Regions from separate parts of the Homo sapiens genome. Here region 1 is linked to region 2. A link means that fine-mapping ties the variant in region 2 to the expression of a gene that starts in the linked region. Tissue or cell type: esophagus muscle. Region 2 holds a variant in brackets; the other region holds the start of a gene. All regions are shown on one strand. Distances are between the middles of the regions.

Evidence for each region. PIP is the estimated chance that this variant, and not a neighbour inherited with it, causes the effect.
Region 1: it holds the start of ZNF470, and the variant in region 2 is fine-mapped to the expression of ZNF470 in esophagus muscle (GTEx, PIP above 0.99).

Annotation. Positions count from the first base shown.
Region 1 is chr19:56,563,704-56,570,230 of GRCh38, forward strand. ZNF470 (zinc finger protein 470) reads left to right here and starts at 3,765. Exons shown (of 6, transcript NM_001001668.4): 1 at 3,765-4,335; 2 at 5,055-5,180. ZNF470-DT (ZNF470 divergent transcript) reads right to left here and starts at 4,318. Exons shown (of 2, transcript XM_047439806.1): 1 at 3,370-4,318. The coding sequence starts at 4,318. The coding sequence ends at 3,380. RefSeq lists enhancers at 3,445-3,494, 3,505-3,714, 4,095-4,204.
Region 2 is chr19:56,541,925-56,548,451 of GRCh38, forward strand. It overlaps ZFP28 (ZFP28 zinc finger protein), which reads left to right. Exons shown (of 8, transcript NM_020828.2): 3 at 5,584-5,710; 4 at 5,883-5,978. It overlaps ZNF470-DT (ZNF470 divergent transcript), which reads right to left. Exons shown (of 2, transcript XM_047439806.1): 2 at 3,651-5,347. Among named protein-coding and RNA genes, the nearest start is that of ZFP28, 6.2 kb to the left of the region's middle. RefSeq lists an enhancer at 5,360-6,527. The variant CA/C (reference allele first, on the strand shown) is at 3,013.

The sequences.
Region 1 (6,527 bases), 22 kb after region 2:
AAGAATTTTCAAAATCCTAATGTCCTCTTTGTTAACAGTTATTCCCTCAATTTATATCTCTTCTTTTGCATGTTTCTGTAAGCAGCAAGAAAACAACAGCAACAGGACATTCAGCACATTCCTTGAAAATCTTAGCTACGTCACCCAGTTCTTCTTCCTGCATTAGCTGCAAATAACAGGCTGCTAAACTTTCTGCCATTACATAACAAGGACCCTCTTTCCTCCAGTTTTTAATGGAGTATTTCTCACTATCCTTTTAGCCTTCACCAGCACTTAAGACCCAAAATTTCTGGACAGTCCCTTTTCTATACAAGTATTGGACAAACTCCAAGCATCCCAACAAAGGCTTTAGCATTACCTGTCTCAGTGAGACAAGAGTTGGAGATTGAGTTCAACACAGTGAACTGCCTACTAAAAACAAAATTCAGACGGACTTTTTGTCTGTAGAGACAACAGAGTCTCTACAGTGTGTTACTCATAGAGTAAGAATTATTAGATATGTGAAAACATAAGCCACATTCAAGAGAAGAAAGCAATACAAATCCTTAAACACTGGTATTAGCAAACAAGAATGATAAAGCCCCTATTATAATTATTCTGAATGACATAAAGGAAAATGCTATTAATGGATGAGCAGATGGGAATTTCAGCAAATGAGTAAATCAGTTTGAAAATGGGAATTCTAAAACTAAGAAATACAATGTTTGAAAGTAAAAATCCACTGGATAGGTTTAACAGGAAATTTGAGGTGGCAGAATAGTTAATGAAGTTGAATATAGATAGAAATTATTTAATCTGAAACAAAAAGGATTGAAAGAAATTAAAAGGACTGAATAGTGCTGGTGATAATGTCAAAAGGTGACTTGTGATAATGCTTTGTGTTCTCTGATCTTCCTAGATCTGTGGTTTGGTGTTTGTTTTCTTGCTTTTAGAGACAAGGTCTTGCTTTGTTGCCCAGGAGGGAGTGCAGTGGCAGGATAATGGCTTGCTCAAGCAATCCTCCCACCTCAGCTTCTCGAGTAGTTGGGACTACAATTACACAGCACCACACCCGGCTAATTTTTGTATTTTTTTAAAGATGGGGTCTCACTATGTTGCCCAGGCTGGTCTCAATCTCCTGGGCTCAAGCAATCCTCCCACTTTGGCCCCCCAAAGTGCTGGTATGTATCACAGGCATGAGCCACCACACTGGCCTGGTGTCCTGTCATTAATTTTAGAAAATTCTCAGTCATTATTCAAATATTTTCTCTCCTTTCTCTCTTCCCCTCCTGGTATTCCAGTTACGCATATATTTCACCTTCTGTAATTGTCCCATGGTTCTTGGATATTCTGTTCTTTTTCTTTTTTCATTCTTTTTTTTTCCTCTTTGTATTTCAGTTTGGGAAATTTCTATTAACATATCTTCAAGCTCACCCATTCATTTCTCAGAGTGTCTTAGTCTGAGGGGCTCACTAAAGGTAATCTTCATGTCTGTTACAATGGTTTTCAATTGCTAGGATTTCCTTTTGATTCCTTCTTACAGTTTGCATCTCTCTGCTTACATTACCCATCTGTTCTTGCATGTTGTCTACTTTTTCCAAGATGCTTCTCCTTCTGTGGGCTTCCCTAAGAACTCCTTCTTAAATAGAGTCTGTGCCTTGCAGTTTTCTCTGTTGTAATCTACTGTTATTGACCAGAGCCCCATTAGTGTGGCAGTGAGGTACAGTGGGGAGGGAAGCATTCTATAATCTTATTATTAAATACTATTTTTCTAGTGGGCTTGAGGCCTTGGACTGTGATCTTCAGAAGCACTTCTTAGCCTTTCAAAAATCCTGCCTTACTGAGACAGACAGGCTATAGAGGGACTGGAGCTGGCCAATTGCCTCTCCCCAAGGTCCAACAAGACTCTAGTAAGTAGTTTTTCTTGGAGTGCAGGTGTTTATTATGGAAAATGTGGTGCTTACTTTTCTCCTCCCCTTGCCCAAAAACCTGAGATTTTTCCCCATTCTTCACTGAGAGAATTTGATAGGGTTTCTGGAGGTAAAATTCACGAAAGTGTGGGGGCCCATCTAAGATTGGGCCCCTAGGAGTTTTTAACTCACAAGTTAGCCCACACTAAGCCTCCAGCAATTCATCAAAATTATAAAAAATAAAAGTTTTTACCAGTTTATAACTCCAGTGGCTTCTGCTTCAAGTAAGCTAATCTTGGCTGTAATTTTATGTATTTTTCTTTCTCGGGATTTTGGGGTGTCAGTTACCTTTCTATCTTCAGTTCTCTGATGGATCTAAGAAAAGTTGATTTTCAGTTTGTTGAATGATTTTGTTGTTGTGAAGATGGGAATGAAGGCTTCCGAGCTCTTTATATGCCAGAGCTAAAATGAGAATATTATCATTTTCATCCAACTCAAATAACCACAAACGTTACAAGCTCTAAGATGATATTTGCTGTTTCATAGTTAAAGTATCTTCACAGCTAGACTTGGCTTTATTATGTTGTTTATGATGTCTGACATAAATTGGATCCAGGAGAGTCCAGTCTAGATGTCACTGTGTGGCCTTGGGTGATTGAGTGTGACTGGGAGGGTGAGTTAGTTTCTGGTGAGCCAGTATCTATGATGCTGTATCTTGGTCAGCTGGGGCTGCTATAACAAAATATCATAGACTAAGTGACTTGACTAAGAGACTTTATTTTTCACAATTCTGGAGGCTGGGAAGTTAAAGTGCTGGCACATTCAGTTCTTGGTGAGGGCCCCGTTGGCTTGCAAATGGGTTACATCCTGCTGTGTCCTCACATGGCCTTTGCTTGGTGGTTGTGTAAACATGGAGACCCCTCCTTCCTCTTTTTTAATAAGTGCACTGACCCCATCATAAGGGTATCACCCTTATGACCTAATCTAAAACCAGTTACCTCCCCAAAGTCCCACCTCCTAACGTCATCACACTAGGGGTTAGGGTTTCACCATAGTAATTTTGGGAGGACATATTCAGCCTATAACATGTTGTGTCATGGTGAGACTGGCAATGCTAGATTTCGTGATTTCCTAAAAAATAAAATAAAAATAAAAAACTAAGCACCTACTATGTGCTGTTTTAGTCACTGAGAATATAACCCTGAACAGGACGGAAGCTGTGTGCCTTCTTGGAACCCTCCTTCCAGCAGGGAGAGATAAAATGGGGTGGGGGGAGGTGAGGGGCGTACCGTATATCAGAGAGCAGTAACTAGTAGGCATGAAATAAAACAGGTTCCACACGCGCACCATCAGAAAGTCACAAGTGTGCAAAGCAGACAAATCCCAATCTCCTCACTTTTCTATCGCGTAGGCCCCGCCCGCGCCCCAAGCCCCGCCCTGTCATGGTTTTCCTCTCCAGAGGGTAGCCGCTACGCCTTACCGACTGCGTTTCAGTGCTGTCCCACTGCTCCTGCACACCCCACGCCTGCGACCCTACCCACCACGGACAGGCGCTCCTGCGAGCTGGAAGCCAGTTCTCTGCGTCCTGAGCCTGGCAGCTGCATCTGAACACTCGGAGCCTGGCGATGGCTTCCAGAAACCCCTGCGCCGTGGGTCGCTTCAGTGAAGGGGCCTGTACTTCGGCGACCCAGACTCCGGGCTGAGAGGCCTCCTAATCCAACCAGGAGGACCAGGAGAGGCCCAAAAGGGGACACAGGGCAGTGACCGCCAGGCTTGGAGAGGAGCCGCTCCTGGCAAAGCCAGCGCCCTATTTCTGAACGCCGCCTCCGTTCCGGACTACACTTCCCAGGGGCTATTGCAGCGGAGGACACGCCCACTTCCGGAAAGGACCCAAAGCCGGGCGAGTGCACGTCCCGCCGGTTGCTGAGGAGAAGGGAGGTCTGGGCGGGGCAGCGGCCGAGGCTGGACTGGGGCGCGGCGGGGGCGGTGTCCTGGTTCCTGTGTGGGCGGCGGGCGTGAGCGTGCGCGTGTGGCCTGGTGGCTGTGAGTGCCCATACGTGGTGAGCGTGCGGTGCTGTGCTGAGGAGGGGCGAGCGCGCGCGGGGATGGCGGCCCGGTGTGTGACTGTCCGGTGCGTGGCCGCGAATCTGCGCCTGCGTGCATGGCCCGGCGGCGTGCGGAAGGCGGTGTGTGTTGGAATGAGTGAAGCACTTTAAGTGGCCAAGAGCAGGAAACCCGGCCGGAGGAGGCTTACCCCGTTCTCCCCTGTATCGACTGCGTAGAGCCCAGTGTGGGCAAAGTCCTAGAGCCCGGGGAAGTTGCCCGGGCGGGGCAGCCTCGGCTGAAGCATTTCCTGTCAGCCCTATCTGGAAGGGGCAGAGCCCAGGACAGGGCTCCATGTCCACAGGACGGCGAGGAGCGAAGACCATGGGGACTGAGTACACAGGTAAGAGTGACAGATGACGGATGTGGCTGCCGGAGTGGACATTGAGGTTTTGGGTGCTGTCTTTCGGGGTTCAGGTGCTGGAGGAGGATGTCCCCCGTTTCTAAGGCTAGTGGACCTGGAAGTCGAAAGATTTGGAGGGTCACCTTGGGTCAGAGTGGAGCTGGGTTTAGTTAGGGAGGGACCTTGACTTGGCCAGAGACACCTAACCAGATAACCTGACTCAGGTCCTTGGTATATCACTAAGGGCCCATGGGAGAGAACACTACCCGTAATATTACCCATTATAGCATTACTTCTGGGTACTCTGCTGCTGTTGAAGGAATAGCTCAGCATTTAGATTTTTACCCGTCAGAGCCTTGTCCCATCTATCACTGTAGGATTTGGGAAGAAGGCGAGATTCACAGCTTCACCCAGAAATGCCGAGGCATTCCAGCCTTTCTATGGCTTAATCACGTTCTAGTCAATAACGGAAGATATCCCCATTCCTTGGGCTTCTCTCCCTCCCCTCTGGCCTCCCACTCCAATAAAGAGAAAGGGGGAGGAAGGGCTATTTTTAGCCATATTGTTCTGTGCTTGTTTAGTTTCCTGCATGCTATAGTAATAGCTAATGTTTAATGAGTGTTTATTATGTGCCAGACACAGTTCTAAGACCTTTTGGGAGTATCAGCACCAAACTTCACAACATTATGAAGTAGGAACTACTTACCTCTTTTTTACAGATGAAGACACAGAAGCATAGAGAGGATAAGTAATCACTAGCAAGTGGAAGAACCGGGATTCAGATCCAGAACAGGCTGACTCCAGAGTCACTGGCTGTCATGTAGTTTCCTCAACTACTGCCTCAGGTAGGTTTCTTAGCCACTTTTGACAATTAAAGAAACTGACTCTGAAAGGGTTAAATAACTAAATAGTTCATATGCCAGAACCTCCACTGAGCAGGTTTGGGGTTTTTTTCTTAAAAAGTTTATGACTCTAAGTTCTTAGGTAAAATGGAGATGGTAATATTATATACCTCACAGTACTGTCATAAGGATTAAATGACCTCATACATGTAAAGCACTTGGTATAGTCCCTGCCATGTAATGTGTTCATTTTTATCATCATTATGATAATCCTTTGAGAAGGCAGTGGAATTTAGATGAAAGAAACTAGAATTAATTCAGATACTTTATCCTCTTCCTTCCTAATTAAGGAAACATGGCTCAGTGGAGTCAAGGGACTGCTTCAACACTGTAGTTTGTCACAAAACAAAATGAGATCCTAGGCCTCATGAGGATTTTTTCATTTGGTTGTCTGCAAGTCACATGGACTCTGTTGTAACGAAAGGAATGCCTCTCTCTGGAAAAGATGGAATTCTCCATGGAATTTGTCTTATAGAATGTTCACAAATCCTGGCCAACTGCACAGAGGACTTATTTTCTGTTATTTTCTGGTATATGAGCAAATAACTTCTGTGATAGAGTCAGCCAGACCTAGGTTGGTGACTAGGTTATTTACAAATTTGTGTGACTTGTGGAAAAGACTTGACTTCCCAGAGCTTTCTTGTGTAAAATGGTGACAATATACCCGATTCTGTTTGAAGATTTTGGAGATTTAAAGACAGTATTAATATATGCAGCACAGACATGGTGGCTCATGCTTGTAATCCCAGCACTGTGGGAAGCCAAGGCAGGAGGATTGCTTGAGGCCAGGAGGTTGACCAGATACCTAACTCCAGGAGGTTGACACCTCCTGGCCTCAAGCAATATAGTGAGCAATTGGGCAATATAGTGAGACCCCCATCTCTATCAAAAGTAAAAAAACTAGCTGGGCATGGTGGCACATGCCTGTAATCTTAGCTACTTAGGAGGCCTAAGCAGGAGGATCCCTTGAGCCCAGAGTTTGAAGATACAGTGAGCTATGATCACGTCACTGTACTCCAACCTGGGCAACAGAGTGAGTCCCTGTCTTAGAAAAAAAAAATGTACACACACACAGGCTAGTATTAATAAATCTGTTGTTAATGAATTGGTGGCTGATGGGGAGAGGGGGTCAAGAGATATTATGCTCATCCTGAAAACCCAGAGCAGAGGGGAACCCCAGCTATATATTTCAAGTCTCCCAAAGAGCATCAGGACTGTGGGGTGGGGGAGTTGGAGTGAGGACTGTGAGTGAGGACAGAAGAAGCTGAAGGGAAGAAAGCATTTTCAGAC
Region 2 (6,527 bases):
CCATGTTGGCCAGGCTGGTCTCGATTTCCTGACCTCAAGTGATCCGCCCACCTCAGCCTCCCAAAGTGCTGGGATTACAGCCATGAGCCACTGTGCCTGGCCCTCGTAGTACTTTTCAACATACTATATACAGAAATCCCACGTATACCAAAATTTGCACTTATTCATCAGCCATGTGGAGCCTGCAGATATGAGAAGTCAGCCCTCAGTGGACACAGGTTTTCCATACCACAAATAATCTTTTTTGAGACAAGGTCTCACTCTGTCACCCAGGCTGGAGTGCAGTGGTGCCATCACGGCTCACTGCAGCCTTGACCTCCCCAGGCTCAAGCAGTGCTCCCATCTCAGCCTCCGAAGTAGCTGGAATTACAGGCATGTGCCACCATGCCCAGCTAATTTTTGTATTTTTTGTAGAGATGGGGTTTTGCCATGTTTCCCAGGCTGGTCTCGAACTCCTGGCCTCAGGCAACCGCCCGCCTTGGGCTACCAAATTGCTGCGATTAGAGGTGTGATTCCCCGCGCCCAGACAATAATTGTATTTTCAGTCTGCATTTGGTTGAAAAAATTTGCATATAGGTGGACCCTTGCAGCCCAGATCCATGTTGTTCGAAGGTCAAATGTATTTTACTTAATTTATCTCAGTTTCTCTTGTCTCATTTCCTTACTTCATAGGCAAGGATTTGGGGCAGTTTTGCCTAATGTCTGATACAGAAAATATTTGGTGGATGAATGTTTGAATATAGTCTTAAAGTTCTCTTGTGGCCAGTGTTTTGATATTTAGTATAGTGTTAGAATAGTCATTTTTATACCTGAAAATGTGCTTCGTCCCTGATTTTTTTATTTTGTTTTTTTGCTTTTAGAGACAGGGTCTCACTCTGTCACCTAGGCTGGAGTACAGTGGCACAGTCATAGATAATTGCAGCCTCAAACTCCGGGCCTCAAGCAATCCTCCCACCTTGGCTTCCAAAGGAGCTGGAATTGTAGGTGTGAGCCACCATGCCCAGCCCCTGATTATTTTGTATGAATACATTCCTAGAAGTTTTTCTTGCCTCATGGATTAAGGTTTCCTAAGCTTATGTGAAATCGGAATACTTCTAAAATTATTTTTGGATAGAACAGCAGTGGTGCCTCAAAAGCTAGAATTCATGTTTTGAAAAAAATGTACACTTCATCAGGAATAATAGTTATTACCAAATAAATGTTTATTTGTATGTTTTAAAAATTAACTGAATTGAATTTAAACAAATCTTTTTAGTGTATTTTTTCTATAAAGTACTTCATATTCATTCTTTTCTATGAAATTTCAACAGAAAGATTTTTCTGTAAGTATAAAGTTGCTTTTATTTTTTGTTGGTATTCTTTTAATGTCTCTATCTTTGTGTGTGTGCGTGTGTTTATATATTATATAGAATATATTATATATGTATATTTTATATATATATTAATATATGTATATTATATATATATGTATATATAATTTTTTTAAGAGATGGGAGTCTCACTGTTTTGCCCAGACTGGAGTATATTGGCTATTTTCAGGCACAGTTATGGTGTACTACAGCCTCAAACTCCTGGGCTCAAGGAATTCTCCTGCCTCAGCCTTCTGAGTGGCTGGGCCTATAGGCGTGTGCCACCATACCCAGTTCATATGTATATTAAGATGAGTTAACTTACATCAGATGCCTATATCAGGAGTAGATTCTGTGCCTGTATAATGTTTTCTCTGTGGTATAGTGTAAAAATGTGAAACCCATTTTGAAGTCTGCATATTTATGTTGCAGCAACAGGAATAAGAACAGGACCTGCACATTTGACAATGTTTTGTCTCCACCTAAATTAAGTAGGTTGATCCAGACATCAGTTAGGGAAAGTTCATTTTATTTTTATCTGAAAACATGTTTTCTACTGGAACTTGTTTCACTGTCAGGGTGAATGGATACTAAGTATTACTGCTATTATCAAAGTGGAACCTTTTAATAGAAGTAGAATGGCAAAGTGGTCAAAGGTCATGGACTAGGTTCACATGCTAGCCCTAGCATCTAATCATTGCGTAACCTTCAGGCAACTCAAGTGACCACATTTTCTTCATCTGTAAAATGAGGAAAATAATTGGACCTGCCTCAAGCAGTTCTTGTAAGGATTAAGTTAAGATGTGTATAGTGCCTGGATTGAGGTACCTGGCACATAGTAAGGACTTACTAGTGTTAGCTGGCAGCATCCTCATGTCATCATGACGGTTTTAGAAATTTACAGGCAAGACACTTAGATGGCGTACTTCAAAAAAAGTGTTTAATATAGGACCGAACTGGGCAAATTATGGCCTATAGGCCAAATCCAGCCCACCACCACCTCCTTTTGTGTGGCCCACCAGCTACAAATGAGTTCTACATTTTTCAGTGGTTGAAAAAAATCAAAAGAAGAAGAATACATGAAAATTAAATGAAAGTCACATTTTGGTGTCCATAAAAAAAATTTCATTGTAGCACAACATACTTGTTTGTTTATGTATTATCTATGACTGCTTTTGTGCTACAGTGGCAAAATTGAAGAGTTGCGGCCAAGGCTATTTGGCCCACAAAGCCTAAAATATTTACTTTCTGGCTCTTTACAGAAAAACTTTGCTGACACCTGAAGTGGAGGTTAAGAGCATGGACTGTGGAGTCAGACTCCTGGGTTCAAAACCCAGCTCTACAGCTGACTGTCTGTGATCCTGGGCACATTACAGCTCAATATTTTCTCATCTGTAAAATGGGAATAGTAATAGTACTGACTATTAGGATCGTTGTGAGGATTAAATAAGCTAATATATAAGTATATAGAATTGCGTCTGAAGTGTTGTAAGTGCTTTCAGCTATTGTTATTGCTGTTATTTACAGTAAAAGACATTTTTAAAACAAAAGTCATTGATTCTATACATAAAGAGCTGTCCGAATAAACAGAAAATGTCTTAGGAGGATATATGTATATTGCTAACGTTGGGTCCCTCTACGTGATTACATTGAAGGCATTTAA[CA/C]AACCACTGGTACAAAAGCAGATCACTAATGCATAGCATGATCAACCTGGGAAACTAGGGTTGATTCTTCTTGGCAAGCAAATAAGTTCCTCTTCTTTTATGCCAAGATGCTTCAACTTGCAAAATTATTGCTGAGAGCTGACCAGCATTTGTTTTAGACTAGCTTCCTCAGGTAGCCATATTAGTGTGTCTTTTGCTCAAGGACATTAAGCAGTTCTTGGCTGTTTCCTGCAAGTATTACCTCATGGTTTACACTGCAGGGGGCCTTTCAGTCCCCAGCTTAGGAGACTTCTCCATGATGAGTTTACCATCAAGAGTGTAGCTCTGCAGTTGACTGATTCAACTCCCTCTGCAGTTGATATTCACTCAAATTGGGATATCACTTACAAAACCCTTTTGACCTATTTTTACACAATTCAGTTACAAATGTCCTTAAAGTTTGGTAGCAGGTTAAAGAACAAGTGATTGTATATTATTCAGCAGATATCAAACCTCAAAGGGACTTTTGTTTCTAGTAGAATAATGTGAATCTTTAAAAGGTTCAGCTCTTGGTTGGTGTTGTGGTTTGTTAAGTGAGGTATTTAAATTAGGTTTTGTGTAGTCAGATGCAGCATGGTGAGGGACACTTAGAGCAGAATGGCAAAAAGATTGTTTATTACTCACAGATTCCAGAGAACAGTGGCCAGCACACCTTGCAGGGCTTACTGGAAGGGCTTGGAGACATTGAGGACACACATGCCCAGCCAAAGGGTGGGGACCAAGAGAGAGGGAGGGACCTGTGGGCTGGAGCCTTTATTGGGGTTCAGGGCATTATCTAGGTGAGTTTCCCAAGACAGGGTTGGCTTGGATACTTTGAAGGGAGCTCAAGGCTCAGTAAGGGAACTTGAAGGCTACATTATCAGGTTCACCAGGCTTCATGCAGAAGGACAGTAGTCATTTCATAGTATGGGGCCTTTTCTATCTAGAACACACAAATGGGGACTGGGTGAGGACTGCCTGAAAATATATAGGTCAAGGGTGACAAGCAGAGGCAGCATCCCTATGGATGAGAGTTATGACAGTCAGCATCATTACAAGTCATGTTCACTGCATGCTTCCATTGTGCCTTGCACGTTCTAAGTGCTGTGTATGTGTTGCCTCATTTAATCCAAAACATAATCTACAAGGTTGGTATTGTTGCCTTTTCCATTTTATAGCTGGGGAACTGAGGCACAGAGGCGTTAGGTAACCAAGTGAGGTTTCAGAGCTGGTGAGTGCTGGAATTGTAATTCAGCTTTTGGGGTAGTCCAACTGTTTCGCATGTTCATTTCAGTTTAGACTTTGAAAATCCCACAGCTGCTAGTCAGTTAAATCTGCCTTCTGTTAGCCACAGGTTCCTGGGATTAGAGTTGCAACTGAATAGATGTTTAAAATACATTGGAACGTATCAGAGTTGTAGGCTGAATTTGTAAAACTATGCTCCATAAAAATCTGCCAGCAGGAGCTGAGCAGCCCCATCTTGCCAGTTGGTCAAGAAAATCCTGCTCATGCCAAGCTGTTAGCAAATGTGCTCCTGATAGCTCCTCATAATGCCTAGCTTCTCCAAGATGGCACCTTGGTTCGTAAAGGCATTTCATTAATTAAAAACATTATAGTGCTTTTTGTTTTTCATTCTTATTACATATTCATTTTAGAAAAAAAAATTGCTAGATTTTTTTTTAATGACCTCTACTGAACACTGAGAGTAAAAATAGAAATTCTTAGAACCCAGTTTAGTCATGAATAATATTGATGCTTTGAGGTTCATCTCAAGTTTATTGCCCAGTTCTTGTGCTGCTTCAGGCCACTCACATGTCCCCATGTTGGACAGTGCTGTAGTACCTGTTGTGCATAGAACAAGTTAGTCTTTGTTATTTATAGTTTTGAATTGATGTCAGGGGTTTTTCTTGTGGCTGCCTCCTTTCACCTCCACAAAACTGCAAGTTCTCCAAAGTCAGGGGCTGTCTCCATATTTTTCTCTTTTACCTGGAGTTTAAGACAGAATGAGGCTAGCTGTACAATACCTAACTAGATCTCCACAGTTCTGAGTTTATAGTCTCTTACTCAAAATGAAGACAAGGAATCTTTAGATCCCTATATTAGTTTGTTAGGGCTGCCAGAACAAATACCACAGAATGGGTGTCTTAAACAACAGAAATTTCTTTTCTCAAGCTTCTGGAGGCTGGAAGTCCAAGATCAAGGTGCCTGCAGGTTTGGTTTCACCTGAGGCCTCTCTCCTTGGCTTGCAGACGGCCGTCTTCTCTCTGTGTCCTCACGTGGTCTTTTCCCTGTGCCTGCACACCGTGGTATCTCTTCCTGTTTTAATAAGGACACCAGACAGATTGGGTTAGGGCCCCACCCATATGACCTCATTTAACCCTAATTACCTCTTTGTAGGCCCTGTCTCTAAATACAGTCACATTCAAAAGTACTGGGGATTAGGAGTTTAATGTAGGAGTTTTGTCAGGGGACACATTTCTTTCTATAACAAACCCCCAGTCATGTGGGGGCATGAGCACTGGTTGAGCAAGAACATGGTTATATCATTTCAGGGCTTGGTGACATTTGGGGATGTGGCTGTAGATTTCTCCCAAGAGGAGTGGGAGTGGCTGAACCCCATTCAGAGGAACTTGTACAGGAAGGTGATGTTGGAGAACTACAGGAACCTGGCATCGCTGGGTAAGGGCTCCCACCCCTTTTCCCACCCCTCACCCTACCCACGTCCTGGACTAAGAAGCCTTTCATGCCTTTATCACCCAGACCTGCACTGCCCTCTTGCGTCAAGCCAAGGGGACTGCATCTCAGTCTGGACAGCCACACAGTATGACCAGGTTGTTTTTTATGTGTCTAGGACTTTGTGTTTCTAAGCCCGATGTGATCTCCTCGTTGGAACAAGGAAAAGAGCCTTGGACAGTGAAGCGAAAGATGACAAGAGCCTGGTGCCCAGGTGAGTGTGGGAGAACCAGGTAGGGTGAGGCCACTGCTGGTCATAGTTCAGCTGACTCAGACACGCAACATCTTCAGCAGACTCTTCCTAAGCCTCTTGCTTAGGAATATCTGTTATTTTTACTATTTGGGAATACAGAAATTTCAACTACAGTATTATTTCCAGAACAGCAAATTATTAAGACAAGGAATTAGAATTATAGATTTCTTTCAGAGGTTTTATCCTAACAGGAAATGGTTACAGTTTCTAAAGCATTGGGAATCTTACAAGGTTTCTTTGTTCAATTCACACTTCAAAGGAAACGCTTGCATTGACAACAGGACAAGTTACTGACAGTTATAAATTAAAGTGACTCACATGGGTCATCATATAGCATAAGAGAACAAGAATGTGTGAAAGTTTCCAATTTAACATCATATGAAATCACATACTTTGAGCTAGTTTAATGAGATAGAACTGTTTTTTCTTCCTGCAGATCATTCATCTCTTCTTGAGACTAGTTAATTGTGAAGACTTACATTTTTAAGGCCAGGATCTGGACTTTTATTA